Linked DNA regions of Homo sapiens. The protein of the gene in region 1 interacts with the protein of each later gene in a biochemical or structural test. Each region holds a gene or a part of one and is shown in the gene's direction. Other genes may lie near its edges.

The links.
Region 2: the proteins of CHD4 (region 1) and ADNP form a complex in vitro, tested with the Homo sapiens proteins (2 studies listed by BioGRID).
Region 3: the proteins of CHD4 (region 1) and RNF8 form a complex in vitro, tested with the Homo sapiens proteins (one study listed by BioGRID).
Region 4: the proteins of CHD4 (region 1) and H2BC3 form a complex in vitro, tested with the Homo sapiens proteins (one study listed by BioGRID).

The regions. Positions count from the first base shown.
Region 1 is NC_000012.12:6,596,951-6,605,056, reverse strand, and holds part of CHD4 (chromodomain-helicase-DNA-binding protein 4), read left to right. Parts: intron 1-2,559; coding exon 2,560-2,681; intron 2,682-2,881; coding exon 2,882-3,097; intron 3,098-3,290; coding exon 3,291-3,409; intron 3,410-3,526; coding exon 3,527-3,768; intron 3,769-4,003; coding exon 4,004-4,131; intron 4,132-4,387; coding exon 4,388-4,523; intron 4,524-4,661; coding exon 4,662-4,840; intron 4,841-5,044; coding exon 5,045-5,284; intron 5,285-6,631; coding exon 6,632-6,835; intron 6,836-6,957; coding exon 6,958-7,163; intron 7,164-8,106. UniProt on the Homo sapiens protein: ATP-dependent chromatin-remodeling factor that binds and distorts nucleosomal DNA. Acts as a component of the histone deacetylase NuRD complex which participates in the remodeling of chromatin.
Region 2 is NC_000020.11:50,927,332-50,935,397, reverse strand, and holds the start of ADNP (activity-dependent neuroprotector homeobox protein), read left to right. Parts: upstream 1-3,960; 5' UTR 3,961-4,572; intron 4,573-5,060; exon of another isoform or gene 5,061-6,572; 5' UTR 6,573-6,579; coding exon of another isoform or gene 6,580-6,747; intron 6,748-8,066. Other genes in the region: DPM1 (dolichol-phosphate mannosyltransferase subunit 1), read left to right, coding at 162-266.
Region 3 is NC_000006.12:37,370,178-37,378,283, forward strand, and holds part of RNF8 (E3 ubiquitin-protein ligase RNF8), read left to right. Parts: intron 1-1,334; coding exon 1,335-1,397; intron 1,398-4,442; coding exon 4,443-4,532; intron 4,533-6,748; coding exon 6,749-6,856; intron 6,857-8,106. UniProt on the Homo sapiens protein: E3 ubiquitin-protein ligase that plays a key role in DNA damage signaling via 2 distinct roles: by mediating the 'Lys-63'-linked ubiquitination of histones H2A and H2AX and promoting the recruitment of DNA repair proteins at double-strand breaks (DSBs) sites, and by catalyzing 'Lys-48'-linked ubiquitination to remove target proteins from DNA damage sites.
Region 4 is NC_000006.12:26,042,305-26,048,441, reverse strand, and holds H2BC3 (histone H2B type 1-B), read left to right. Parts: upstream 1-4,728; 5' UTR 4,729-4,784; coding exon 4,785-5,165; 3' UTR 5,166-5,215; downstream 5,216-6,137. Other genes in the region: H3C3 (histone H3.1), read right to left, coding at 2,621-3,031. UniProt on the Homo sapiens protein: Core component of nucleosome. Nucleosomes wrap and compact DNA into chromatin, limiting DNA accessibility to the cellular machineries which require DNA as a template.

The DNA.
Region 1 (8,106 bases):
GAGTCTGGGCTGTTGGGATGAGAAACTTGGTTTCATCCTTGTGTAGAGTAGGGGGCAGATTTCCATGCCCTTGCCCAAGGTGAGGGCGGAGTTGTGGTGCTGGTAAGGGGACCCTGTCCTTCTGAGAGGGGCATGAGAAACAGTAGTGCTGCCTAAACATTCTGGGTTCCACGTCTTGGCCTCCCATTGGCCACTTGGGCTGGGGCTGCCTTTCATGTTGACCGGGAGCTGCGCAGGAGCTGTGAACTCTGTCCTGAGCTGTAGCATGACCCACTTTTTCCACTTGCCACACCCCATTCCTGTCCCTTTCCTAAATCTTCTCTATATCTCAGTAAGTTTGCGGTTTGCCATTTCAGCATATTATTTGCCTGAGAAGTTTGGGGGGCTCCATGTGCATGGAAGGATGTCCCCTTTGCCTCCATGGGTTGTCTTTGTCTCCACTTCCAGCTTTTATGGGGGTGGTGAGATGTAGCTGATGGGGGTTGGGGGTTGACTTGGGGATTGGTGGGGAAAAGTCCTTAAGAAAATGATTCTTTCTGGTGAAATCCAGGCTGATGTTGCATTCCCAAGGGGGAATGGGAGGGGCGTTCTTGTGCCTGGTCTTATTCTGGGCTGAGAAGCAGGGAGGCTGATGGTGCTTTGTCCAGCCTAATGTCTCATTCCCTAGTATCTGTCTAGCTCAGGAAGTGGGGAGCCAGAGACATTTTAGGGCTAATTTTGGGGGTTAAGAGCTAAGAACATGTCAGGGATTGAAGGAGGGATATTATTTTCTTTTTTATTTTTGAGATGGGGTCTCACTCTGTCGCCAAGGTTGGAGTGCAGTGTGCGATCTTGGCTCACTGCAACCTCCGCCTCCCGGGCTCAAGCGATTCTCCTGCCTCAGCCTCCTGAGTAGCTGGGATTACAGGCACCCACCACCATGCCTGGCTAATTTTTGTTTTTTTAGTAGAGACAGGGTTTCACCATGTTGGCCAAGCTGGTTTCGAACTGACCTCAAATGATCTGCCCGCCTCAGCCTCCCAGAGTGCTGCGATTACAGGCATGAGCCATTGCACCCGATTGGGATATTCTCTTCTACCACTGTCTAGGTCCTGCTCTGTTTTTTTGTGCAGACATTCCCATATGTTGGATAGGAATCTGGGTGGGAGTGGTGAGGAAGCTGAGCTTCAGAGACTTCTTGTGGGCCTCCATTCCTCAAACTAAATCTTTTGGGTATCAGAAATTTGGGGAGAAGGTTGTATGCGCTGACCACAAGTCCACTGAGCCTTTGTTAAATCTCAGCTCTGATGATTGAAAAAATAATTATGATTGAGGGAGTGATCGAGTTCTTCTCTTAGTATTACCTTCATGTTTGTCTCGCTTTCCTTGGGTTTCCTTGCTTAGGATGTTAGGGTGGGCTCTTGTGAACTGTTGTCATCCCAGAGTAGGTGGCATTTGGACCTGGGGCCAGGTAATTTGGGGAGGCTTCTATGAGGGCAGTCTCCCCCCCCGCCACCCCACCTCTCTCAAACCCACCCCCTCCCCTGCCACTTCCTGTCTGTCCTATGTTGGCAGCTGGGTGCCCTGGGCTGGCTTCTGCGGTCAGGAGCCATTTTCCCTCTCCTCAGTGGGTGAGGCACTCCCTTCTTCTCTCCACTCCTTTCTCTACCCACCCCCCTTTGGGCGGGGGTGGCTTGGGAAGAGGGAGAGAGGAGGGAGGAGGGAGTCGGAGCCAGTGTGAATGTCTGTTACAAAGGAAGCTGCCTCCTGGTCTTCTCTGTGTCCCTTCCCACCTATCCTTGCCCAGGAGCTTTCAGTCTTACCCAGGCTTTGTGTGTGCCTCCAGCCAGGGGAGGAGGTGGAGCCAGATGGGAGGAGGCTTGCTGGGGGGCGGGTGTAGGGGAGATGGTGACAGCTGGGCTGATTCGGGCCCCTAGGGAGAAGAGGCTGCTGACCCAGGAGAAGCTGAGGAGGAACATTAGGGTTGGAGATGGGGAAAGGAAATTGTATTTTAGAAGTGGGCATGAGATTGAGCTGGCACCTGAACCTAGGACTTGGAGGTTCTGGTTAATTTGAGCAGTGATGACTTCAAAGTGGTTAGAGAAGGGTGTGGTTTCCGAGACCCCTGAACTGATCCTGTTCTGGGAAGGTATATTCTATAGTTTTTGCCTTCTGAGTAGGATCTTTCATTCTCATTCCCTGGTTTATAGAATAACTTGGTGGCCAGTTACAGGAGGCCTAAATCTAGTTCTCTTACTTGGTGAACTCTGAGCAGCTCAGTTCAGCTGTACTGGTGAACATCTAGAGGACTGGTAGGAACGGGAGAGAGGAGGCAGGGGTCTGGACAGCTGCCCGAGGTGGGCCTGGTCTGGCCTGGCAGGCCTATTTCGGGTATATACAGCTCTCTCTTTGTCTGTTTTTGTCCTGGGTATCAGCTTCCTCCTGTACAGAGTATAGCAGTTCTCTTCAGAGGAATCTGGGACAAGAGGTGGGGAATAAAGTCTAAAGCCTCTGGATTAGGGCCTAACCTTTTGCTATTGATCTTTTCCCTGCCTACCACTCTTTGCCAAATATATGTAGAAAATGAAGAGGACCCAGAAGAGGATTTGTCAGAAACAGAGACTCCAAAGCTCAAGAAGAAGAAAAAGCCTAAGAAACCTCGGGACCCTAAAATCCCTAAGAGCAAGCGCCAAAAAAAGGAGGTGAGTGGGTGACTGAATGTTACGGGGAATCAGAGGAAGAAGGGAGGAGCTCTGAGAAGGGTTGAAGGGCTGAGGGCATTTGTTTCTTTCTCAGAAGTGGTGGGCCATGTTCTGGGGATGAGCCTCAGGGCTGTCCTGAGGTCAGCATGTGTGTAGCATGTGTGTGTCTGTCTCCCTCTTCCCCCCTTGCCCTGCTCCAGCGTATGCTCTTATGCCGGCAGCTGGGGGACAGCTCTGGGGAGGGGCCAGAGTTTGTGGAGGAGGAGGAAGAGGTGGCTCTGCGCTCAGACAGTGAGGGCAGCGACTATACTCCTGGCAAGAAGAAGAAGAAGAAGCTTGGACCTAAGAAAGAGAAGAAGAGCAAATCCAAGCGGAAGGAGGAGGAGGAGGAGGAGGATGATGATGATGATTCAAAGGTGCCTGGACCTCCATCCTCTTCTTTGTACTGTTAAACTTTTGTCTTTTTGTTTCCTAGACACCTTACTGCCCTTTAGAACACTTTCTCTTCTTTTCCTCTTAACTCTGTTACTCTGATTTTTCCACACAAATTTGCTTAGCAAGTGTGGGCACTAGGTGGCAGGTACTTACTTGACTTTGCTCTTTCTGCAGGAGCCTAAATCATCTGCTCAGCTCCTGGAAGACTGGGGCATGGAAGACATTGACCACGTGTTCTCAGAGGAGGATTATCGAACCCTCACCAACTACAAGGCCTTCAGCCAGTTTGTCAGGTAAAACAGAAGGGGTTTGGGGAAGGGGGAGGAGAATCTTTCTGTTCTCTCTTCTTACTTCTCTTTCTTTTTTTATTCTTAAACCTTTCCCTCTGCTCTTGTGCATTTCTCCACCAGACCCCTCATTGCTGCCAAAAATCCCAAGATTGCTGTCTCCAAGATGATGATGGTTTTGGGTGCAAAATGGCGGGAGTTCAGTACCAATAACCCCTTCAAAGGCAGTTCTGGGGCATCAGTGGCAGCTGCGGCAGCAGCAGCGGTAGCTGTGGTGGAGAGCATGGTGACAGCCACTGAGGTTGCACCACCACCTCCCCCTGTGGAGGTGCCTATCCGCAAGGCCAAGACCAAGGAGGGCAAAGGTGAAATGGGGTTCAAATGGGAGTGGGGGTGTCTAGTGTGGGCTTAAGATGTCAAAGACAGCATGGGAATGCTGGTCTGTCAGCCCTAAGGTAGGAGATAGGAGGGAGGAATGAGTCTTGGATTTTGGAGGGAAATTTGGGAATCTGAATGTGGGGAAGCAAGCTTAGGTGGAGAAGATTTTATTTTCCCCATCTTTGGTCTTGTGGTATATATTTGGATATATCCTGATTTTAGGTCCCAATGCTCGGAGGAAGCCCAAGGGCAGCCCTCGTGTACCTGATGCCAAGAAGCCTAAACCCAAGAAAGTAGCTCCCCTGAAAATCAAGCTGGGAGGTTTTGGTTCCAAGCGTAAGAGATCCTCGGTGAGAGCCCAGCCCATCGCTTTAGGGAGGGTGCCATGTCTAATAGAAAGGATGTGACCTTCTATCAGAACCTGTCCTTCATAGTAGGCACGTAAGAATGTGGGGCGTTTCCCACAGAACAAGATGAGACTAGGCTCCCTGTATAACGGTGCTTGCTGGGATTCTGGTGTCCCCAGTGAGAGAGTACTCCCCTCTCTGCCACTCTGTCCTTCCCCTTGGCTTGAACGTCTAACCTTATTCTTTTTCATCCTGCCAGAGTGAGGATGATGACTTAGATGTGGAATCTGACTTCGATGATGCCAGTATCAATAGCTATTCTGTTTCTGATGGTTCCACCAGCCGTAGTAGCCGCAGCCGCAAGAAACTCCGAACCACTAAAAAGAAAAAGAAAGGTGTGTTTCTCTTCTGTATATTTGTGATGGGATGAGGTGGGAGTGATTGGGGAAGAATCTCCCTAAGGAGATAGGGGTCGGGGGGTGGGGGGAGGTAGTTTTTTTCCAATAACTGGGCTTTCCCTCTTCCTTGCCCAGGCGAGGAGGAGGTGACTGCTGTGGATGGTTATGAGACAGACCACCAGGACTATTGCGAGGTGTGCCAGCAAGGCGGTGAGATCATCCTGTGTGATACCTGTCCCCGTGCTTACCACATGGTCTGCCTGGATCCCGACATGGAGAAGGCTCCCGAGGGCAAGTGGAGCTGCCCACACTGCGTGAGTGTCTGGCCATTGTGGCCCCTTGGAACCCATGAGAAGAAGGGTGGGACAGTAAAGCTCTTCGGGGCCTGGATGGAAATGGAAATGCTGGTGCTGCGGGTTGTGAGCTTTGGGAAGCATTCAAAGGAATGATGGGCACTGGCTTCAGACTGCGGTGGGCGGGTGGGGGTAATAATCTGAATCTGTGGTCCTTTACTGCAGGAGAAGGAAGGCATCCAGTGGGAAGCTAAAGAGGACAATTCGGAGGGTGAGGAGATCCTGGAAGAGGTTGGGGGAGACCTCGAAGAGGAGGATGACCACCATATGGAATTCTGTCGGGTCTGCAAGGATGGTGGGGAACTGCTCTGCTGTGATACCTGTCCTTCTTCCTACCACATCCACTGCCTGAATCCCCCACTTCCAGAGATCCCCAACGGTGAATGGCTCTGTCCCCGTTGTACGGTGAGTGACTGATCTCAGCCGGGGCAAAAAATGGGAAAGTGTAGTCTTTTCTATGTAGGCTATTGTGAGGCTGGGGTGCAGGAGAGGAACTATGAGCTTTTCAGCCCTGAGAAAGGTATTCTCCTTCATCCTATAGTGTTGGGATACTTTTGTCCTGGGAAAATATAGGACTAACTTCAAACTGAGGAGTTGATGTTTTGCCAGCTCTCTTAAGAGGAGATGAAGCAATGTTCTTCTAGCTGAGAACATTTGTCCCTGTGTTGACACCCTGCCTCAGGGTCTTGGTAGCTTACAATGTTTTCAATTTTTTTGTTAAAAAAATTTTTTTTTTTGGAGACAGGGTCTCATTCTGTCATCCGGGCTAGAGTGCAGTGGTGCAGTCATAGCTCATTGCAGCCTCCAACTCTTGGGCTCAAGTGATCCTCCTATCTCAACCTCTTGCTGAGTAGCTAGGAGTACTGGTGCATGCCACCACATCCAGCTAATTAAAAAAAAAAAATCTCTGTTGAGACAGGGTCTCACTATGTTGCCCAGGCTGGTCTTGAATTCCTGGTCTGAAACCATTCTGCTCCCTTGTCCTCATTAAGTGCTGGCATTACAGGTGTTTACCACCATGCCAGCCAGTTTAGAATGTTTAATAGGGCCACTTACTGCTTTAGATTGCTTAAGGGAGGAATTCTGTGCTCTAAGTCTGTTGATTTCCTGATTGTTCTGGCTTATTGTTAAAGTCTAACTACTGGCTCTGTTAAGCAGATAGGAGTGATGGTGGCACGCAAATCCTGGACGATGTCCAGAAATGGAGAGGGAATTCTATTACAGGTTGAGCACCCTAATCCAAAAATGTGAAATCCAAAATACTTCTGGTCCCAAGCATTTCACATGAGGGGTCCTCAACCTGTATTTTCTCCCTGGAGGAGTCCTGGGATTAGATTTTATTTGAAATGAGATCTTTTTTTATTTTTTTGAGATGGAGTCTTGCTCTGTCCCCCAGGCTGGAGTGCAGTGGGGCAATCTTGGCTCACTGCAAGCTCTGCCTCCCAGGTTCAAGTGATTCTCCTGCCTCAGACTCCCAAGTAGCTGGGACTACAGGCGCATGCCACCACGCCCAGCTAATTTTTGTATTTTTAGTAGAGACGGGGTTTCACCATGTTAGCTAGGATGGTCTCGATCTCTTGACCTCGTGATCTGCCCGCCTCGGCCTCCCAAGGTGCTGGGATTTCAGGCATGAGCCACTGCTCCAGGTCTGAAATGAGATCTGAATCGTCCTTTGATGAAGTTGAGACTGTGGGCTGTCCCTTCTCCTCCCATGGTTATGATTTGAGATTAAGTTGTCTCTTTTTCTCTCAGTGTCCAGCTCTGAAGGGCAAAGTGCAGAAGATCCTAATCTGGAAGTGGGGTCAGCCACCATCTCCCACACCAGTGCCTCGGCCTCCAGATGCTGATCCCAACACGCCCTCCCCAAAGCCCTTGGAGGGGCGGCCAGAGCGGCAGTTCTTTGTGAAATGGCAAGGCATGTCTTACTGGCACTGCTCCTGGGTTTCTGAACTGCAGGTAAGTTTAGGATAGTCTGGAGATGTAGGGGCTACGATGAAGAGGATAGTGACAAAAGAGCCTTGTGGATAGAAGGAATGAACACAGCTTCTTGGTGGCTGATTTTCTCTTTCCGCTCAAAGCTGGAGCTGCACTGTCAGGTGATGTTCCGAAACTATCAGCGGAAGAATGATATGGATGAGCCACCTTCTGGGGACTTTGGTGGTGATGAAGAGAAAAGCCGAAAGCGAAAGAACAAGGACCCTAAATTTGCAGAGATGGAGGAACGCTTCTATCGCTATGGGATAAAACCCGAGTGGATGATGATCCACCGAATCCTCAACCACAGGTACCAGCTGAGCACACGGGAGACGGGCAGTCTCCGTGGGAGAGTCCTGCTAAAGAGATTGGGAAAATGGCTGTCACCAGTAACTTAGACTTGGAAGACACTGGTTTTTTTTGTTTGTTTTTTGTTTTTGAGACAGAGTCTCACTCTGTGCCCAGGCTGGAGTGCAGTGGCGTGATCTCGGCTCACTGCAACCTCTGCCTCCCAGATTCAAGTGATTATCCTGCCTCAGCCTCCTGAGAAGCTGGGACTACAGGCGCAAGCCACCATGCCCAGCTAATTTTTTGTATTTTTAGTAGAGACAGGGTTTTCATTCTGCTGGCCAGGCTGGTCTTGAACTCCTGACCTCAGGTGATCTGCCTGCCTTGGCCTCCCTAAGTGCTAGGATTAACAGGCGTGAGCCACCACGCTCAGCCTTATATATTTATTTTGAGACAAATTTTAGCTGTGTTGCCCAGGCTTGAGTGCAGTGTCGTGATCACTGCTCATAGCTGTCCCAAACTCCTGGGCTCAAGCAATCTGTCTGCTTCAGCTTCCCAAAGTGTTAGGATTACAGGCGTGAGCTACTGCGCCTGACACTTCATGTTATTATCTTTATTTATTTATTTTATTATTATTGTTTTTTTTTGAGACAGACTTGTCACCCAGGCTGGAGTGCAGTGGCGTGATCTTGGCTCACTGCAAGCTCTGCCTCCTGGGTTCACGCCATTTTCCTGCCTCAGCCTCCCGAGTAGCTGGGACTACAGGCCATCGCCACCATGCCTGGCTAATTTTTTTTTTTTTGTATTTTTAGTAGAGACGGGATTTCACTGTGTTAGCCAGGATGGTCTTGATCGCCTGACCTTGTGATCCGCTCACCTCCTCCTTCCAAAGTGCTGGGATTACAGGCGTGAGCCGCCGCACTCGGCCTATTTATTTATTTATTTATTATATTTTTTGAGACAGA
Region 2 (8,066 bases), on another chromosome or scaffold:
AGATACACACAGTTGCTTTCATAATCCCCTAATTTTATACTTACTTTAAGGACCTCTGTTGTAGGACTAATCCTATTTCTGTTGTGTTGGTAATGTGGTATACCGGCTAAGCTGCCTAATTGTTTTTAAAGACTAACGTTACTTTTTTTTTTTTAAACTAGGTTCCAATATCATTTGTGGATCGTGTTTATGGTGAATCCAAGTTGGGAGGAAATGAAATAGTATCTTTCTTGAAAGGATTATTGACTCTTTTTGCTACTACATAAAAGAAAGATACTCATTTATAGTTACGTTCATTTCAGGTTAAACATGAAAGAAGCCTGGTTACTGATTTGTATAAAATGTACTCTTAAAGTATAAAATATAAGGTAAGGTAAATTTCATGCATCTTTTTATGAAGACCACCTATTTTATATTTCAAATTAAATAATTTTAAAGTTGCTGGCCTAATGAGCAATGTTCTCAATTTTCGTTTTCATTTTGCTGTATTGAGACCTATAAATAAATGTATATTTTTTTTTGCATAAAGTATTGCTGCCTTCATTAGAGTATGTGAATGTAGAATTTTTTACATGGGGAATAATTTGAAATAGTCTTTTTAAAAACTGGAATCATAGATCTTTATACCTAATTGATCTCAGAAGTAAGATAATGTTAACTGATGAAATGTTTATGGCTGTGTCTGTATGAATTGAAAAAGAAATACACACCTCTGCCCTTTCCTTAAAAATGTATCTCAAATTTCTTAAACTAGAAAATACATTTAGAGCAGGCATTTACAGTTCGGTTCTTTTCAGCTGTTGAATTGATGAAACATTTCATCTATCAAAGCAGGTCTATTTAAAATGCATATTGTGAATTGGGAAACAATTTGACAGCAGTTGATTACATAGCCGTTTTTTTCTCTTTTGAGCAATAACCTCTATCAGTAAGGAAAAATATTAATGACACTGAGGCAGAAACTTAGCTGCTACAGTAATTTTTAAACATCTTACTGAATTATATAACAATTTTTTTCTCAAAAGACTTGTTTTCATATTATTTAAAGACCCTCAGCAAAGCTCACATCCCTACTAATTTGAAAAATCTCTGCCTTAAGCTCTTCTCTCCATTTAGAAAAGTGTTCTGCCAGTTAAAATTTGGGCTAAGCTATCCAATAAAGCCAGGGCAAATATTATGTTTACCCACTTTCTCTAAAGTAGGTATTTCAGAAGAGATCAGTTAATTTCTAACTGTAGCATAGGTTATGGTCATGTAGTATCTTTTAAAATTTGAGTAAGGGCATGCTTTGAGCAAGTAAGTTTAAGTTGACTTTCTTCTGGAAATAAAAGTAAGAGGTGTCTCTAAATTATTTATTGAACAGTATTCCTAATTACTACATTTTCCTGGCTTAACTTGGCTGCTGAAGAAATTGAGGCCCAGCACAATGGCCCATGTCTATAATCCCAGCACTTTGGGAGGCCAAGGCAAGAGGATGGCTTGAGCACAGGCATTTGAGACCAGCCTAGGGAACATAGGGAGATCCTGTCTCTACAAAAATATAAAAAAAGCTGGGTGTGGTGGCACTCACCTGTGGTCCCAGCTACTTGGGAGGCTGAGGTGGGAGGTTCACTTGAGTCTGGGAGGTCAAGGCTGCAGTGAGCTGTGATCATGCCTGGACAACAGAGTGAGACCCTGTCTTTTTTAAAAGAAAAAAAAATGAAAATCTGATTTTTCATTTGCATTTCTCTCTGACAGATTCTACCAGAAATGAATCCCAGACTATAAAACCTGTGGTGTCATTTCGAACATTAAAACCACCCCCTCCCACGCTTCTATAGTTGAACCCATAGTACACATTCCAATAAGGGCCACTCTTGTTCTGTTTCCCTTATGTCCAGAACTGTCCAGCTGGCCAGTGAGGGAACTGCTTTCCTTAGGGAAGAAACTTCTCTCATTCATAACAAGAAGAAAATTCATCAGTGCTTGATGTGAAATTAGTTTTAAGCTAAGATAATAGAAATGTAATATTCTCAGTTTTTTTGGAGTGGTTAGAATTTATTTTTTCTTAACCTAAACTCAAAGTTGAGTTCTCAGTGTCAAGTATGTGGAGCAGAAATTAAGTAACAACCTTAGAGAACCTAATATAGATAGTACTGCCTTCTCAGATACTCACTAGAGTAGATAATGTTTGCCTTTTAAATCTTTTTAGTTATTCACACAATCATTATCACAACACTGTCACTCTTGGAATTTACCATAGAGTATTTGAGCAGTGAAGACTCATAGCATTTGGAAGTCATTTAGAAAAGAATCTGGAATATTTAGATGCATTTTTGTAGTAAATCTGGTGCTTAAACACTGTAAAATTAAATATTTACATCTGAATCCAGCATCCCATTTTGCTTTGTAAATGAGGCCAAAGATGAAATCCAGATGTTTTCCCTTGTATTTGTATTATCACTATATGGAATCTAAGTATATCTAAGAAAAACTAAACTTAAACTTACTTTGCTTATTTCATATTAGTTTTTATCTGTCTTCTGCAGTGTGTAATTAGATTCTTTAGTTTTCTGAATCAAATGCTTTGCCCCAACCCCTTTTTCCACGACTTTTTTCAGCTGTTTTCCCTTGAAATACTGACTTGGCTTTTAAAGATACATTTTATCACAATTGCAGAAATGTGTTGTATAAAAGTTTGTTAAACAGGGCTAACTGAAGTCTTAGATGTTGAACAGCTATGTGTAACCACAATTTATACTACTTGCAGCGAACTCAGATTATTTTCGGATGTTAAGTATGGCTTGAAACTATGTTAACTTGAAATGTAAAGAAACAGCAAAAGACAGGTGTATTTACCTAAAGATCACATATTAAGGAAACAGGCTTGGTTAATTCCTCACTATTGACATCTATTACTTGTCAATACATTTAACCAACCAATGATACTTTAAATCATAATGTTACTTTGAACAACCTACTTTAAAAGGTTGGTTCAAAAATGTTGAGGAGATAATGTATTGGTTGGGATTGACCTAAATTTACAAAGCAACCATGTGCTGTCTTATGCTACCCAGATTGTGGGAGCACCAAAAGCTATGTCCCTAGGACTACAAAGTGTGTTGTTTAAGGATCTTGCAGAGAGCCAATGCCCCTATTGGCAACATCACTTCTCATCCTTAAGTTTCACCAGTTGGGTGGCCTCAAGGCACTAGGATTCCCATTTTTTTTTTTATTCAGGTCAGAGAAGAGTCCATCACTGTGACTGGGAAGAATGTCAAGTCACAGGGTAACGGCGGACCTTAATAAAATCTCGGCCCCTCTGCACCGAATACCCCACCAGGAAGGGCTAAGGCATCCATGGGGTTGTGTCTCATCTCAAGTCGCTGTGTGAAGCACGAGGCCCTCACACCTCATTTAAGGCAGGAGGCGTCAGGGGCGACCGGCCAGGTGTCCCGGCGCCTTCCCGCCGCTTCTCAGCCGTGGAAGCGCGGGCATCTGAGCACGTGGAGCCGCCCCAGGCCGCCCCGCACACCCCTCCCGCCAGATGTAGTCCAGGCCCAGCTGGGCCCGCGCAGGGATCCCCAGCACGGCCACCTGACTGAGTGCTGGGCGTGCTGCGGCCCGCTGCTTCTGCCTCCGCCGCCGGCGCTGCGGCCAGAGGAAGGCGCCCGCCGAGCACACGGGCCCCGGGAGCGCACTGCGGCCATTATCCGCGGCGCCTCCTAGTGGGTCAATGGCAAATCCGCCTGGTTCTCGCGAGAGCTCCCCCCTCAGTGGGGATTATATAATTTCCCTCAAGCGGGGGTGGGGGTGCTGAGAGCACCCTCCCTCAGGAAAAGTTAGGTGCAAGCAGGGGTGGGAGTAAGAGGAACCCCCCCTGGGGAAAAGGGGGTTAGGGGTGCTGTCCCCACTGCCCCCCCCTATTTAGCTGGACAATGAGTCCTCTTATGCTAATGAGGCACTTACGTCACTTCCGCTCTTTCTCGGCCGCCATTTTGGCTAGGGCAGGTTCGGGGACTCGGTCCGAGGCGCTTGTATTGTCTGCTGAGGGGAGACGCGGGATCAGCCCCCTCCCCCGCCCGTTGCCGCCGCCGCCTCCGCCGGCCCGGTCTCCCCTCCGCCGCCCGCCGGGATCCATGAGCTGAACTCCCGCCCCCCCCCCCCCGGCCGCCGCCATCTTGTGCCCCCTCCCCCTCCCGCAGGCAGCGCTAAGGGGGATTTTGGCGTCTTCTCAGACACAGCTCCCTCTCTCGGTCCCCGCTGCTGAGGAGCGAGAGGAGCGCGGCCGCCGCCGCCCGCGCCGGTGAAGCCGCCTCTCCCACACCCTCCGTCTCCTCCCTCCGCCCCTCCTTTGTCTGCACCGCTCGACGACGCCGCCGCCGCCCGCCGCTCTGCTGCGCCCGCCGCGCCCCCCGGCAGCACCCGCGGCCGCGGCGCGAGCCGGAGTCCGCCGAGCCGGAGCGCGACGAGGCCCCGGGCGCGCCCTCCCCGCTGCCGCCACCGCCGTGCCGCCGCCATCCGCCCGCCGCCGCCGCCGCTGTCCGGCCCCCGAGCACGCCGGCCCCGCGCGCGCCTCGAGGCCGAGTCAAGGTAAGCCCGGCGCCGCCGCGCGCGGACCCGCGGCCCTGCCCTGCCTGGCTTCCCGACCCCGGCCCGCGCGGCCGCCAGTGCAGCCTGGCCCCGGGCGCGGGCGCATTGTTGTTCGCATCGCCGCCCTCCAGCCGCACACACGCTCCTTTGCACACCCCGGCGCCGACGGGTCCCCCGTCCCGGCACGGACCGCTACCCGACTCTGCTCCGGAGGTCCAGGCGCCTCCTCCTGCAGCCCGACCCCCTTCTCCGCCCTGTGAGCCCACCGAGGCCAGCACTCTGCCTGGCCGCCCGGAGCTTTTGCAGCTAAGGGCATCTCCCCCAGCCAGAACCGAGCTTCTCCCATCCTGGAACTAATCCCGTCCGCCCCCCACCCCCAAAAGGAGCCCCCCCACGCACACCCCCATGCCTTGAACCAGCCTTCTGCCAGGTCTGCCCACCCTTACCTGGGGGAGGGGGGACGGGGTTGGGGGGGGCGGGGAGCATGCATGGCATGGAGTGAGTCTTTGCCTCCCCTGTGCAATCCTTCTTCCCCAACCTGCCAGCTTTCCTCTTATCCTGACCACAGTTCACCACCATCCCTTTTCCCCAATCTCAGCTGCCTGGTCAGCACCTCTTTCGAACATTCTGAGCCCCAACTTTGCAGTAAGGTGGTAGAAAATGGAAATCCAGAGAGCTGCAAAAAGATTTTTTTTTAATGTAATGAATGGGGAGTAGTTTTGTGAACACACTCGTATTCACCTCTTCTTTCCTCTGGGAGGCCTGCCTGCCTTCCCCTCCCCCCCAACCTTGATCCCTGTCTGCTGGAAAAGGCGCGATTGCTTCTCTTCCTCTTCTGCCCAAGACCAAGACTCTAGGTCTGATATCCTTTTTAGCCACACACACACACCCCCCACACACGAAGTCTTCTTAATCTTCTTGAATTTACCAGTTACTCTGGACACTTCTTGCCATAACCCCATTTCACAGACAAAGGCTTAGGAGGGAAAAAGAACCAAACTGTTTCTGTGTTTGTCATGTTAATGATGTCCATCCCCACACACCCAGTTCCCATCCCTGATGCTTCTTGTGCCTGTATCTTGAACCTTCAGAATGAAAAAAAAAAAAATCTCTTGGATAGCTTGATACAGTTTCTTTAGAAATCTGCATTGTTGCTTCTGGTTTATGGCCATGGAGAAAATACCAGCCCCCACCCAAAATGCACCGCAGCCAAGTCGGCTAAAGGCGATGAGTGTTGGAGTCAGTAGGGGGCGCATTCTCTGCACTGGGTAAGGCTGCAGAGGGGGGAAGGGCCCCCGAGCTAGAACAGGATGTGCTTCACAGCGCCTTCTACAGACCATGGGAAAATGGGCCCAGCAAGACACACTCGCACTCTTAGTTGGTGAGCTGACAGCAACATGGCGAAGGATTAAGTGAGTCAAGAGCAGTGATTTTACTTCTTTTAAAGAGCCCACCCTGCATTTTAGAAGTTTTCTCCTTTTACTTTTTCAAAACTGTTGGCCCCCAGTCCATATTTGTTCTTGACGAATCACCTTGGCACATCCTTGGTTCGGATTCCCTTCCTCTGGAGTTCTTCCACCTCAAGTTTTGAATGTGTCACCATATCTTTCCTAAGTCTGGTGGTAAAGGAGAAGGTTTGAAACAAAGTAACAGGTTTGGGGGCATAGCTGGTTAACTCCCTTCTTCATAGGCCAAATCTTTCCAATTCTTTGAGAGTTAAAAATCATTCTTGAGAGATGTTGGATTAAGTGTGTAGATGGGTGTCATGATTTGCAAAGCCTTGTTGGTAAACATCAAGCCCATGTTGGGTTCTTCATTGTCGAACTCAAGTGTTGATTGTAAAAATTTCGTTTCCCTCCAAATTTGGACTTGTAATTGCCATTCATTATCTCAGCAGCCAACCACCTTTACAAAAATGTTGATACCAGTCTTCTGTGAGCACCCACCTTCTTAGGGTGTGTTGATTTCCATAGATTTTACTCCTCTTGTTATTTCCATAGGTGTGAGATGCACAATGCGAAACCTAGGCCCCAGCTTTTACACCATGATGCGCAGGGTTGTACTTTTTGTACTGAACTGATAGGTGGCCTAGTGGTTATGCCCTGTACTACCATTTTGAGGATCTGGACTCCGTTTCCTGCCTTGCTCTTTGGACCACATTGTCAATTCACACCGGTGGGTATATTCATTTTGGAGGGTGGGAACTGCAGCAACAGGGAAGCCAGAGACTTCCTTCTCCTTGGTCACCACCAAAACCAACACTTCCAAAATTTCAGCCTAGCCACATTCCTCAAGGAACCGGTTAGAGCTGGTTGCAGTAGTGGGTTCTGAACACTTATTAACATAAGAAATTACTTACAGCTTTTTTAAGAGAAATTTTTACAGATGCTAATATTGTAATCATTTGCATTCTACACCCCTTTGTATAAAGTATAAGTATTCAGTTACTATTACTTTGATAACCCAATCTCTAGAGTTGCTAAGCTTCTAAAAGCCTTAAATGTCTGATGAAAACATGGTTTTCCATGAACTTGTTCTTGCTACCAAAGATTGACAGTGGTTGATGTTTGTGGGTACCTTTAAGACTTTGTATGTTACATAAATACACCAAGATAAGTTTATGGAGAACTGAATGGGTGTATTCTTTGATACCTAGTTAACCAGTTGGTGCTTAACAGGAGAATTTTTCATTGGAGAATTGCTACCAGGTAACATTTTGGTGAGTGAAAAGGAGGCCCTTTGGTACAGGTATTTGACTAGAGACATTGCTTCTACAATTTCTTAGTCATTGTGAAAAATCACATATTTAAATGGGATTATTTAAATTTTTAAATACTGTATAGTATTTGTAGGCAGGTATAGTTTTTATCTTTATTTGGTGTTTTATATGCAGTTATTTAAGTTCTGAAAATGACCATATAATTTGAAGACAACTTATTTGACGGAATGTTTGAAATGAAGTTTGTTGAGGGGCTTTTGTTTGATTTAGCGAATGGGATACAGTGTTGAATGATGTCCTAAGTGGTAACAGCCATTTTCCCTTAAAGGAAAACTTGCTGTGAGCTCTTAGAAAGCATGTATTCTACTGTTTCAAAGGTTTCTTGGTTTTAACACTCAAAAAATAAGGTGAGGCCAGGTGAGGTGGCTTACGCCTGTAATCCCAAAACTTTGGGAGGCTGAGGCAGGAGAATCACTTGAGGCCAGGAGTTCAAGACCAGCTTGGGCAACATAATGAGACCCTGTCTCTACCAAAAAAAAAAAAAAAGTGAAACAATTGGGCTTGAAGACTGGAATTTATAGTAGGTAAACTATATACTTCATTAAAGTATAGTAAAAGGTTCAATTAACTAGAGTGTGGGGAATGGGTATTCTGTTTAACTGAACTTTAAGTAGAAATTCCTTTTTTATCTTGGCCTTTGTTGAAAAATTTCCTGAGACTAGCTTATTAGGAGCTATATATTGAAACTAACCTCTTTGATTTTGGTTTTTATAGT
Region 3 (8,106 bases), on another chromosome or scaffold:
TGGCTTATTTCTGAGCAATTTATAAATTTCATTCTGATCTCTGCCATCCCCTTGAACTGACAGTATTAGCAAAGGCCATGGATTAAATAGGTCTTTTGAGAGTATACACTGCTTACTTATGTGTACCTTTTTGCTTCCCTTATCCAGCCTAGACTAGTTCTTGAAATTAATAGAGGGTGGTTTATGTCTACGTGTTTAGTATATCACACCTTCACCAGGACAGAACTCTCTGTAAAGGCTAATATGTTCAGGAACAAGTTACTGTTGCTTAATATTTGTGGCTGCTCTGGACATGCCTCAAGGTATAGCTGCAAAATCTTTTTCTGTACCAAAATGTTAAAGGCGAAAGGATTGGTTTAGAGAATTTCTCTGGGTATGAGTTGGTTGTGTATATGATGCTCATAGTGAAGTGTATCTAGTCCCTTGTTTATCAGCTGCATCTCCCTCTGCCCACCAAGCCCTGAGGATTTATCCTATCCCCTACTGCTGGTTTAGAAGCTCATTAAACCCTTGCTCCTTCACACTTTTTTTTTTTTTTTAAGTACTCAAATTGCCTGGTACTAGGGAATTCTAGTGGTTATAAAGATGCTTACCAAATGGTTTTTGCCATTAAGGAATTTATCTTGTTGAGGAGGCAAGATGTTTCCTGCACACGATATAATCAGAGAATAGTTTTCAGTCAATATAGTAAATTAGAGAACAATTTCAAGTTGGCATATTAAATGGGTAGGTAATTCTTAAGGACAGAAGGGCCCAGAAGTTCTTTTGGAAGGTGCTGGACATATAGGTTAATGATCACCTGGAAAGCTTCCACATTGGAGGGGGCTGATGAGGAAATACAGCATAAGCTCAGGCAAGGAGAGAGGAGGAGCAGAGGAGCAGTGTATAAACTGAAGTGGTAAAGACTCAGAATGAGAGACAAGATGGCCAGAGTAGAGGGAAAAGAAGCATGCTAGATGTTGTGAGTGCCAGCACTGGGAATTACATCTGAGTTTAGGTATTTGGGGGCTCAGAAGTTCTCAGTTTACATCCTTTTGGGAATCATGGCGTTAGTCCATGAAGGAGGCTTGGACTGTTAGGCCATAGTATTTCCAGAACAACCCAATTGGTGGCTTAAAGCCGACAGTCCTGAAGTGTGCAGTATTTGAGCAGATAACTGCTCAAATTCTTTACTGCCAACAGCTTGAAGTAAAACAGGAGATTTTCCACCTGCTCCCTCACCCCTGTTGTTTCCAGATGCTCATACTAGCTGGTCTGCTCTGCTTGTTGCTGGATTGTGTTCCTTTTTTTCTTTTCCCTGCAGAGAAACCTTCCATTTTGTTTTGGCTTTGCAGGGTTTGGAGATAGCCCAAGGAGAAAAGGACCTGAAGCAACAGCTGGCCCAGGCTCTGCAGGAGGTAACTTTGCCATAGTACTAAGATTATAGTGGGCTGTGGAGTGGGGAGCAAACAGGCATCACATGACCACTGGCTGCCTCTGCTGCTTAGCCCATACCTCTGTGGCATCCCCAGTCTGTAAACAGAGCAGGTGGCAGCTGCTCACACCATCAGATCAGAGATTTGGAGCCTTACAAACATGCCAGACCTCAGCATGAAAACTTACATCTTTGTCTGAGCAGAAGTTGCTCTGGTGAAGATGGAATGGAGCTTTAGCAGTTAAGAGGCTCTCTGGGGAAGTGGCTCCACTTCTAGAAAGGTGAGGGCAGCAGAGGGAAAATGTGAGGTATGACTTGGCCACCAGGGCCCGTGAAGGCCTCTGTTACCGCAATGTTCCTGAGCTGTAGCCAACCAGAAACAATTGGGGAATGTTCCAGTTAAGCATTTTAGGCCAGGTTGAGAATGTGCAGTTTAACAATCAACAACACATATCAATTTATTGAAAAGGTAAAGCTCAACAGGACTAAAATTCTCCTAAAAGATTGCCTGTAATTTATTTAATTTAACCTGACTACTCTCATTTGATTATTTTTTTGTGTGCTCTTTTGCATCTTTAAAACCTACTATGTCTTCTACCTTTTATGTATTATGATTAGTAGTTTAGTGCCATTTAGTCAGGATGGTTCAAATCTCATTGGAAAGAGTGAGCAAATCACATAGGAATTTGTTCAGGGGAATTTATCCTTTTATCGTAAACCTACTTCCCAACCTTAACAGTGCTAACAGTCATACAGTATTGTAAGCATGACAGGGTGCCTGCCTTGATCTCCTTGAGGGTTGCACAAACAGCTTTGGAAAGAATTAGATGAAAATTAATTCAATCTTTTTAGAATTTTATTTTTTGAGCTTGTTTATTTTCTAGGGTGGGAGAGTAGGCATGTTTCCCATTTGGAACATTATTAAGTTAATATTCAGACATTGTTTTGAAATTGAAAAAGAATGTGGTTCTGCTAGTTGGAAATCCCTGAGGGATCACTGAGTACCCTGCACCCTCTCCTGAGACAGGAAAACACTCTATCATTTTGCATGGGATACTTGGCCATGCATTTATTAGCTTAAAATGTGATACTTTTAGACCGGGCACGGTGGCTCACGCCTGTAATCCCGGCACTTTGGGAGGCCCAGGCAGGCGGATCACCAGAGGTAGGGAGTTCAAGACCAGCCTGACCAACATGGAGAAACCCTGTCTCTACTAAAAATACAAAATTAGCCGGGCGTGGTGGCGCATGCCTGTAATCCCAGCTATTCAGGAGGCTGAGGCAGGAGAATCGCTTGAACCCGGGATGTGGAGGTTGTAGTGAGCTGAGATCGTGCCATTGCTCTCCAGCCTGGGCAACAAGACTCCGTCTCAAAAAAAAGTGATACTTTTAGGTCATGGTTCTATACCATCATGCCTGGGGGACATGCCACTCTCATGCAGTGGTGGTTTTTTGTTCCACCATGCTGATACTTTTGAAAGCTGTTCTTTACCAGACCATTATAAAAACTGTTTTTATAATGGTCTTTTATAACTGATTTCCTGTTTAAATCACATAATACCTTCCTCTCCAATCTCCAAGAAACTACCACATCTTTTTAAACCGAGTGATTCATAAGTTCTCAGGGAATTTGACTATAGTTAGAAATGGGTCCAGACCTTCACTGCCCTAAGCAGTCTGCCAGTCTTTGCTTTGAGTGGAAAAGAAAATAAAAAGATGTGTTTATATACAGCTCAAAAAACTTCTCTGAATGCTTTTCATACCTGTTATTTTCTTATGAACACTGAGGGAGGAGGGGGCACCTATTTTCCCATTTCCTTTTATTTTTATTTTGAGACAGTGTCTCGTTCTGTCACCCAGGCTGGAGTGCAGTGGTGCAATCTCAGCTCACTGCAGCCTCCGCCTCCTGGGCTCAAGTGATCCTCCCACTTCAGCCTCCTGAGTAGCTGGAACCATAGGCGCGCGCCACAATGCCCGACAATTTTTTTGTATTTTTGGTAGAGATGAGGTTTCACCATGTTGCCGAGGCTGGTCTCAAACTCCTGAGCTCAAGCCATCCACCCGGCTCAGCCTCCCAAAGTGCTGGGATTACAGGTATTATGAGCTACCACGCCCGGCCATATTTTCCCATTTTATAGATGAGAAAGTTAAAATACACATATCTAATTAGTGTGTCAAGTTGAAGACCCAGGCCTTTTGACATAACTGCTTTTTTTTGTCAGGAGATCACACATTTTAAAATTTGGTTCTTGAATAATATCTTTTCAAAAATACTTACCTTTACTCCACCTTCTTTTAAAAAGAATTTGAGGTGAGATTCTAAAGTATAAGCTATACTTAAGCATGAGAGAACTCATAAATTATGTTTCATATATGTGGAACCTCTTGACATTCAGCATAGGCATTTAGTCACAATGAATGAGCTGTTAGCTCCTGGGTGTGCCTTCTTCCAGAAAACACTGGCAGGGTTCAGGCAGCATTGTCTGAGCATGTAATATGTGATTTGTAGAACAAATAGGTTAAAAATCTTTTTTATTTCAATAAAAATGACTATCTAATTCTGCTGATTCCCATTTCCTCCTGATTATTTCATAAAAGCTGCTTCCAGTTCTGAATAGCTTTTAATTACTTACTAGTTCTTAAATACTGTTCCCAGAATCACTTGGGTGGCTTTAAAAAAAAAGAAAAAAAGAAAAGCACATTTCTGGGCTCCAAGCCAAACCTATAGAAGCAGACTCTGGGACACAGTGAAAGTTCTTCAGTTGACTTGGATGGCCACCAATGTTGGGTTAGTTTTAGAGGCCCTAGTCCATTTGGTGGCCGCCTTCCCTAACTGCCCTCTCCCCTGAAAAAAGCAGCAGGTAGGTAAGATAGCCCAATGGAATAAAGGTATTATTTTGAAATTGCCAATTTATCGATCCCTGAACCACAAAGTCACTAACTAGAGGGAGAGAACAGGCATGTTTGTGGCTAAAAGGAAGGATGCATTGTAGTTCATCCTGAGTATGTATCTGCTATGTTTTTGCAGCATTGGGCTCTAATGGAAGAGCTAAATCGCAGCAAGAAGGACTTTGAAGCAATCATTCAAGCCAAGAACAAAGAATTAGAGCAGACCAAGGTACTGGAAAGAAGATGGAAGTTTAGAATTTGGTTAGTGCATGCAACTCAGCATTTTCAACAGTGCAAGGGTTGCTAGGGAAAATAAAGAGAGAAATTATGGCTGCTCCTTGCCTCTGGGGAGATAATCTATAAAATTATAGAGGCCTATAGCAGGTTCTGCCTGTCAGACAACATCTATTTCCTTCCCTTGTTCAGAAGCAAAATGCTGGGAATAAGGCACTTGCATCCTGTATTCTAGTCCTTTGTCTATGGTGGGTACTCCTTCAGAGTGTGTCACTGATACAGACTGAGGAATATTGTAGTCAAGAAATAGTTCCTCCTGAACTATGTAATTTGAATTACATAAAGTAAAGTGAATTACTTAATGCAGTTTCTTCCCATGTCAAATCAGGAGAACTCTTGAATTAGGGGTTATAAACTTAAATGCCCACCAGGGCCAGACTGGTAATCAAAGTGAGTGAAGTGGCCTGAATGTAAGAACACAGTAGGGAGCTGTGCGGGCTATGGCTTATTGGATGGGGTACTTGCCCACACCCCCATCCCAGGAGGCAACTCTTCTCTGCTCAGCCAATTGTTGCCATCCAGAAGTGCAGGCCCAGTGTTGTCAGATCTTCTGATTTTTCCACAGCAGATGAAAGTCCAAATGTTTAAGTGAAATATCCCAAATTTTAAATATTGGCAACAACTTCAGCTTTTTGTGTGTGTTTTAATATGAAGGCCAAACTAAACAAGTCTGCAGGGTGGATCCAGTCCACAGGCCACCAATTTGCAACCTCTGACTTGAAATTAATACCTGAGTCTGACTGCATCTGTCATCCCACCCCCTCCATGTACCAACCTAGAACTGAAGGAGGGACTTGTTTTAGCTGGTTTGATTTCCTGTTTAAATCACATAATACCTTCCTCTCCAACCTCCAAGAAACTGCCACATCTTTTTAAACCCAGTGATTCATAAGTTCTCAGGGAATTTGACTATGGTTAGAAATGGGTCCAGACCTTCTTCACTGCCCTAAGCAGTCTGCCAGTCTTTGCTTTGAGTGGAAAAGAAAATAAAACAATTAAAAATGAGCCAGCCACTCAAATATACCTCAAATGGCCTATCCTCTCCCCCTCAGGGGCTCTTAATGCTTTTTGTTTTGGGGGTGAAGTGCTAAAATAAATGTCTGCTTCAAGAGAGCATACGTAGGAGCCTCCTTAAAAAGTGTGTCCACACGCAGTCTGACCTCTTGGGGAAAGCCGGGGAGATGGTACTGCAGGCCTCTGCAGGAGTGGGAAGTGGCAGGTATCATAGAGCATGGAGCCTGAAGGTAATTCAAGAGGCCTGTCTCCAGCCTTCTGCCTCCAGAGGTGTACCTTACTTTACAGAAAAGGCAGCTGCAAAGAACACAGCAACTTTATAACTAATTCAAGTTTCCTGCCTCTGGACTATTCATGCCTCTTTTCTTGTCCAGTGAGTTTTTAATTGTTTGGGATAATCTTATGTAATGTCTGAACTACAGCTTGCTATAAACTACTTAATGTCCCATCTGGTCTTGGGTGGTTGGTGTGGTTAGTATGTCACCTGCATTTTTCTCATTTGATTAATTTTGGGGAAGGAGACAGAATTTGCAATGCAAATACTGAAAAAGTGGTGTTTTAGTCCATTCAGGCTACTACAAAAAAGACCCATAAACTGCGTAGCTTAAAAACAACAGAAATTTATTTCTCACAGTACTGGAGGTTGGGAAATCCAAGATCAAGATGCTGGCATGTTTGGTGTCTGGTGAGGGCTGTCTTCTGATTCGTAGATGGAGTCTTGCCATGTCTGTCCCTATATGGCGGAAGGGGCAAATGAGCTCTCCTTGGGCCCCTTTAAGGCCACTAACCCCATTTATGAGCATGGAGCCCTCATGACCTAGTCACCTCCCAAAGGCCCCACCTCTTAATACCATCACGTTTGAAAATAAGTTTCAACATGGGAATTTGGGAGGAAGCACAAACATTCAGACCATAGCAAGTAGGGAGAGGAAAGAAAGGAGGTTAGTGCTCTGTATTAGAAAACAATTATTGAAAAACAATAAGCCTTAGGGAAAGTGTTCTATTCTTAATGTTGCTGCACCAGAATGAATCACTCATTAAGACTGAATCCTCTTCTAAATAATTGACCCTGCTCCCTGTCCCATTTTGCATTTTTGTTGGTTCTCTGAATGACAGGTAGGATTGTGTGTCTTGCAGGAAGAGAAGGAGAAGATGCAAGCACAGAAGGAAGAAGTTCTTAGCCACATGAATGATGTGCTAGAGAATGAGCTCCAATGTATTATTTGTTCAGAATACTTCATTGAGGTAATTATGAACAGTTGCTCACCCCTTCTTTTTTTTTTTTTTTTTTTTTTTTTTTTGAGACAGAGTCTCACTCTGTCAACCCAGGCTAGAGTGCAGTGCCACAATCTCGGCTCACTGCAACCTCCACTTCCTGGGCTCAAGCAGTTCTTGTGCCTCAGCCTCCCAAGTAGCTGGGTCCCTTACAGGCACATGCCACCATGCCTGTCTAAGCTTTTGTATTTTTAGTAGACATGGGGTTTTGCCATGTTGGCTAGGCTAGTCTCGAACTCCTGACCTCAGGTGATCTGCCCACCTCAGCCTCCCAAAGTGCTGGGATTACAGGTGTGAGTCACCACACCCAGCCGACCCCTTCTTATTCTCCCAACCCTGAATGAAGCCTGGGCTACACAGGCTGCTTCTACTATAGGGGAACATTCTGAAGAGATTTTCTTCCAGGAACTTATAACTATTTGATTTCAAAGTCACCTCTAGAGATGACCACCTCTTATTTGTTTTTATAATCTTCTTTCCCTTCACTGTCCTTTTTTGGCATTTCATCTGTTCTTAAATGTTTATTTGGTATGATTAACATTTTGAGCTGCAATGAAGCCTTTATCTCTTTGTTGTTGAGGAGAAAACAGGGCCAAATTAGATTTTGGAAGTATCAGAATAAAGCTGCTCAATAAAAGCTATTCTTTCTTTACTCTGAATGGGCACTATGCCGAGAATATGCTTATAGTGCAACCTTTTAAACGAGGGGGTAAACGTCATTAAAATGTGGTCACTTTGGGAATTTACGGCCCAAGTTGAATATATTTCAGGGACTCTGAGGCTCCTTATGGAAATGAAACCTCTACCATTTGTTAGCCTATCATATTTTTGCACTGGCTTATTTATTTATTTGACAAATTCTGCTGTTTGTGACCAGTTCACCTTAGACCACAGATGTTAAATTCAAGTTGCTAAATGACAGTGCTATTCAGACTCCTTTAAAAAGAAGGCCAGGTGCAGTGGCTCACACCTGTAATCCCAGCACTTTGGAAGGCCAAGGCAAGAGGATCACCTGAGGTTAGGAGCTCGAGACCAGACTGGCCAACATGGTGAAACACCATCTCTACTAAAACTACAAAAATTAGCCAGACATGGTGGTGTGTGCATGTAGTCCCAGCTAGTCGGAAGGCTGAGGCAGGAGAATCACTTCAATTTGGGAGGCGGAGGCTACAGTGAGTCGAGATCACGCAACTGCACTTCAGCCTGGGTGACAGAGCAAG
Region 4 (6,137 bases), on another chromosome or scaffold:
AGGGTTATCTTATTGATTAGAAGATATTAAAGTGTGACACTGCCTGGCAATGATATCTGCTGGTAGTAAGAATTTGGCGAATTTAGTGAAATTCCTGAGGCTGAACCTCCACTTCTGTAAAATGGAGACAGTGAGATAATTTGCCTTACAATGCTGAAGTAAGAATTTTACACAATAATTCAGACCAACCACTTCATGTGGTACTTGGCCCGTGGAAGACTATCAATGACAGTTAGTTTATAGTTTATACTATTAATGAATCCTTTGTTTCATTGTTATTTCCTTCTACACGTTGGCCTCTCTAAAAGAAGGTAATATTCAATACAAATAAAGTTAAAACAGCTTGCAGAGTTGTCCCAGGGAACTCACTTAACCACTGAAGTGTTCAAATTGCTTAAGGTTGACTTTATATTCTCCTGACTAACCTTTCTCCTTCTGGTATTTCTTCTGAGAACAGCACCACCATCCAAAGCATCATGCAAACAGTGGTCATCCCAGACCAGTAATTCTCAACTCACAGGGTGCTCCTGCAGAGATGTATTTGAATAGAGTGGTAGGATGCTGAAGAAGGCCACGTAAAATTTGGCCAGTGATCTGGGGCAGATTTATCCTGAAGCTAATGAAACACAAGTGTAAGGGCCTGTACTTCCAAGGTGCAGAGAGGGGCCCTACAAATGTGTTAGTTTGTCTCTCTCTCTCTCTCTGATTTTAAAATTTGCAGTATTAAGGTACTTTAATCACGGATGGTTCAGGCTGCTATTTTCACTCAATCCTCCTTTTTATTAAAATCACCATTGTCTGATTATGTTAGAATCCTGATGAAAATATTTGGAATTTGAGTAAGAGAAAGTTTAGTTGAAGATGTATCTAGTATGGGGATAATAAGTTACGTGATTTGCATATGTGATCATGTGTACTTCATTCGTTGCCAGCCAATCTGACGTAAGAATGGCTTCAAGGAGGCCGGGCGCGGTGGCTCACGCCTGTAATCCTAGCACTTTGGGAGGCCGAGACGGGCGGATCACGAGGTCAGGAGATCGAGACCATCTTGGCTAACACGGTGAAACCCCGTTTCTACTAAAAATACAAAAAATTAGCCGGGCGTGTTGGCGGGCGCCTGTAGTCCCAGCTACTTGGGAGGCTGAGGCAGGAGAATGGCATGAACCTGGGAGGCGGAGCTTGCAGTGAGCCGAGATTGCGCCACTGCACTCCAACCTGGGAGACACAGCGAGACTCCGTCTCAAAAAAAAAAAAAAAAGAATGGCTTCAAGGAATGTTCCTACTGCTCACTGGAATAACTCACCTAAATTCCTGGCAAGATGCAGGTCTAGATAAAATGTTATGACATCTAAGTATTCAAAACACATTCCCAGCACTGAGAGTGAGTGTCTAGTGGAGAGTAGAAACGTATAGAGCCAGAAGCTAGTCTGGAAAGAATTCTTACAAAGTTTACAACTTACATGTGAAAGGAGCTTAACAGAGGATTTTCCAAATTTGAAAACAATCCTAAAAACTTACTTGACATTACCAATAATGTGTTTTGAAACTGAAATACTTCTAAGTTATGAAGAAAACATATTATCATCAGCCACCCTGGAGGAAAGATTGAATTCTATTTCCATTACCTATAGACAACATTACAAAATAATTTCGATCTGAAGATGGAATCAGAGTATTCAGTCAAAACTACAGGAAAATATACTTGGTAGTGTCATATTCAGAAGTTAATAAAATATGCTATTTTCTGAATTTTGTGATGGCTGTTGTTTTGTCAGCTTTTATAAAATTGGAATTTGATTTTATTTTCCCATTATAAATTTATATTTACAGTCTGCAGTACTTTTGCATTTTTAATTTTACATTATAGTTTTTAATAGTTAACAAGTTGTAAAAGGTTTGATCCCCAGAAAACCTTGATCTACCCCATCAGTTAAGTATACTAATATATTTAGAAAATGGATGAAATCAGCATTTGAATATTTTTAAATATTTATTAAAAGAGGACATGGGTAAAAGAGCTTTGCAGTTGCCACCCTTCATTCTCAAATTCCCTGGATAAGGATGACCGCATAATCTTTGGATGGTCATACGCAAGTCTTGTGTACTTGTTACATAAATCTATTTAGTGGACTTTTGGCAGTGTGTACTGAGGCCAGTTTCTTCCACCTGAGCTCTGACTCCACCTCCAGCAGCCCAAAACCAATACTGAATTTTGGGGTCAGCTATTGTTTTTGTGGACTTAGGTAACTACACACACATTGTCTTTATGATAGCTTTAATAATACTGCCATCAGAACTAAAATTGTCACGTGGATTAAAAGGAGTGACGGTGGTGTCCCCAGGAGCCTTTCAATATGTAAGTATTTACACATATACATGCTAAAAAGACCCCTAGGAATTTTTTAACAAGGGCAAAACAGTAACTCAGCTTGTTTTCTCGCAGTAAAACCGGTTGAAAAGGCCTGATAGACTTGTCTGCAGTTACAAAACTTGTGTGTAGTTATCACCTTTATATCTCCTGGAAACTAACATAGACAACCGAATGGGTTACAACTGTTTTTAAGTGAAATTGTGAGTGGCTCTGAAAAGAGCCTTTTCAATGAGGAAGAAACGGGCAGACTTATGCCCTTTCCCCACGGATGCGACGTGCCAGCTGGATATCTTTGGGCATGATGGTGACGCGTTTAGCGTGAATAGCGCACAGATTGGTGTCTTCGAAGAGTCCCACCAGGTAGGCCTCACAAGCCTCCTGCAGCGCCATCACCGCAGAGCTCTGGAAACGCAGGTCGGTTTTGAAGTCCTGGGCGATTTCTCGCACCAGGCGCTGGAACGGCAGCTTCCGGATCAGCAGCTCGGTGGACTTCTGGTAGCGACGGATTTCGCGCAAGGCCACGGTGCCCGGGCGGTAGCGATGAGGTTTCTTCACGCCACCGGTGGCCGGAGCGCTCTTACGGGCTGCTTTAGTAGCAAGCTGCTTGCGCGGAGCTTTGCCGCCGGTAGACTTGCGAGCTGTTTGCTTCGTACGAGCCATTTGCAATGAGAGCACACACAAAAGTGTAGTGAACTGAGAGCAAGTGGCCTTTAAATATAGTGAGAAACATTCTGATTGGTCCTGTAATATTTCAAAAGTCCCGCGCGATAAAATCATTGGCTGAAGAGTGACCAGACTGATTGGTTCATTACTAGACAATCTTATTGGATGAGTTGCCCCACCGCCCATCCTGTCCTTTTCGTTTCAGTTATCTGCAGCGACAAATTGTCTAAAATTCTAGTTCATCCAGTCCCAAAGAACAGAGTGTATAACAAGGTATCTAAGGATTTTTAAAATGTAAATTCCGATTCAGTAAGTTTGAGTGGGACTTGAAATTCTGCATTCCTGACAGTCTCGCAAGTTATCAATGCTGGTGAACACTCACTAAACCACCAGAAACGTTCAGACTCATGTCGGGAAATAACGCTTATATTCAGAGAATGAGATTCCATGCTATTTTGTTACTGGCGAACAGCAAGTTTCCTTGCCCTTTGTTTTCTAAGTCCAAGTCACATTCCCACCCTGCCTGTTCTCAAAATGTCTTATTTTGGTTGGCCTTAAGTTTCACTTTGTATACTCTAAAATGTACTTTCTAAAGGAAGGTGTTATTTTCTCGAAACTTAACTTTTTAACACCATTAGGCTAGGGGGGCGGTGGCTCACGCCTGTAATCCCAGCATTTTGGGAGGGCGAGATGGGACGATCACTAGAGGCCAGGAGTTCAAGACAACCCTGGCTAAAATGGTGAAACCCCGTCTCGCATAAAAATACAAAAACTAGCTGGGCGCGGTAGCAGACGCCTGTAATCCCAAGTACACAGGAGGCTGAGGCATGAGAACCGCGTGAAGCGGCGGGGTGGAGGTTGCAGTAAGCCGATATCGCGCCGCTGCACTCCAGCCTGGGTGACAGAACTAGACTGTCTCAAAACAAACCAATCCAAACGAAAAGCAAAAAATACCCTAACAGAAGCAAGTTATCATCCTTTCTTGTGTAACTATGGACGGCTCTGAAAAATGCCGTTTCAAGTGTAAGCTACGTTTTCTGATTTGAGTGTTTACTTGACCTTGGCCTTATCGTGGCTCTGTTATTTTGGCAACAGGACGGCCTGAATATTGGACAGGACGCCTCCCTGAGCAATAGTGACGTTGCCCAGCTGCTTGTTGACCTCCTCGTCGTTTCGGATGGCCAGCTGCAGGTGGCGGGGGATGATGCTGCGGGTCTTGTCACGTATGGCGCTGCCCACCAGTTCTAAGATCTCGGCGGCCAGGTATTGTAAGTACACTGGCGCACCGGCTCCGACCGGCTCAAAATAATTGCCCTTTCGAAAAAGATGACGGACTCTGCCCTATTGGGAACTGCAAGCCCGGTAGCGACGAACAAGTTTTTGCTTTAGCTCCATTTTCCACGTCCGCAAATAGCGACCTATGAAAGCAGCGGAAAACTGTGAAAGACAAGCAAGCTGGAATGGCGCCTGAACAAATCCTTTTATACAAACTGCAAGGCTGCAATAGGAAGCTATCCTATTGGTCAATTATGTTTGGTGCTTTATCCAATAGAAAAAGATAACATAAATTCCATATTTGCATAAACCCCACCCCTCAGTGAAACCGTGTTTCTTTTGTCCAATCAGAAGTGAGGAATCTTAAACCGTCATTTGAATCTCAGGACTATAAATACATGGGCTCTGAACTGTTCTCTGTACTACTCTGTAGTGGAGAGTGTTAGTAGCTTTTCTATTCTGTTTAGGAATAGCAATGCCTGAACCCTCTAAGTCTGCTCCAGCCCCTAAAAAGGGTTCTAAGAAGGCTATCACTAAGGCGCAGAAGAAGGATGGTAAGAAGCGTAAGCGCAGCCGCAAGGAGAGCTATTCTATCTATGTGTACAAGGTTCTGAAGCAGGTCCACCCCGACACCGGCATCTCATCCAAGGCCATGGGGATCATGAATTCCTTCGTCAACGACATCTTCGAGCGCATCGCGGGCGAGGCTTCTCGCCTGGCTCACTACAATAAGCGCTCGACCATCACCTCCAGGGAGATTCAGACGGCTGTGCGCCTGCTGCTGCCTGGGGAGCTGGCTAAGCATGCTGTGTCCGAGGGCACTAAGGCAGTTACCAAGTACACTAGCTCTAAATAAGTGCTTATGTAAGCACTTCCAAACCCAAAGGCTCTTTTCAGAGCCACCTACTTTGTCACAAGGAGAGCTATAACCACAATTTCTTAAGGTGGTGCTGCTGCTATTCTGTTTCAGTTCTAGAGGATCAACTGGAATGTTAGCGAAGACAAGTTTTAGAGCCAAGGTTAACTTGGACGGGGCCGTGCGCGGTGCCTCTTGCCTTTAATCCCGGCAATTTGGGAGGCCGAGGCGGGCGGATCACGAGGTCAGGAGATGGAGACCATCCTGCTTAACACGATGAAACCCCGTCTCTACTAAAAATACAAAATAATTAGCTGGGCGTGATGGTGGGCGCCTGTAGTCCCAGCTACTCGGGAGGCTGAGGCAGGAGAATGGCGTGAACGCGGGAGGCGGAGCTTGCAGTGAGCCGAGATCGCGCCATGGCACTCCAGCCTGGGTGACAGAGCGAGACTCCGTCTCAAAAAAAAAAAAAAAAAAAAATTAAAAAAATATGAAGTTTTGAAGCAGAAATTATTTTGTCGTATGTTCTTTCATAAATTTTTTGCCTGCCTGCCTTCTTCCTTTGTTACAGAACTCCAACACTTACCCAAAGGTAGCTGTTGGGTCAGGGTTTCTGTACTATAGTCCCTTCTGTGGTGGCCAGAAATATGTTACAGGAAAGAGGTCCCCATCCAGACCCCAAGAGAGGGTTCTTGGATCCCGCGCAAGAAAGAGTTCAGGGTGAGTCCGCAGTGCAAAGTAAATGCAAGTTTACTAAGAAAGTAAAGTGGTGAAACGACAACTACTCCATAGACGGAGCAGGACATTCCCGAAAGTAAGAGGAGGAAGGCATCCACCCTAGGTACAATACTTGTATATATGGGGAGATGTGCTCTGCTACAAGTTTGTGATAAAGGATTAATTTTCTTAGTTACTATATTTTGCAAGAATCAACATTATTATCTTTAAACAAAATTAAGAATGCCTTTGTTC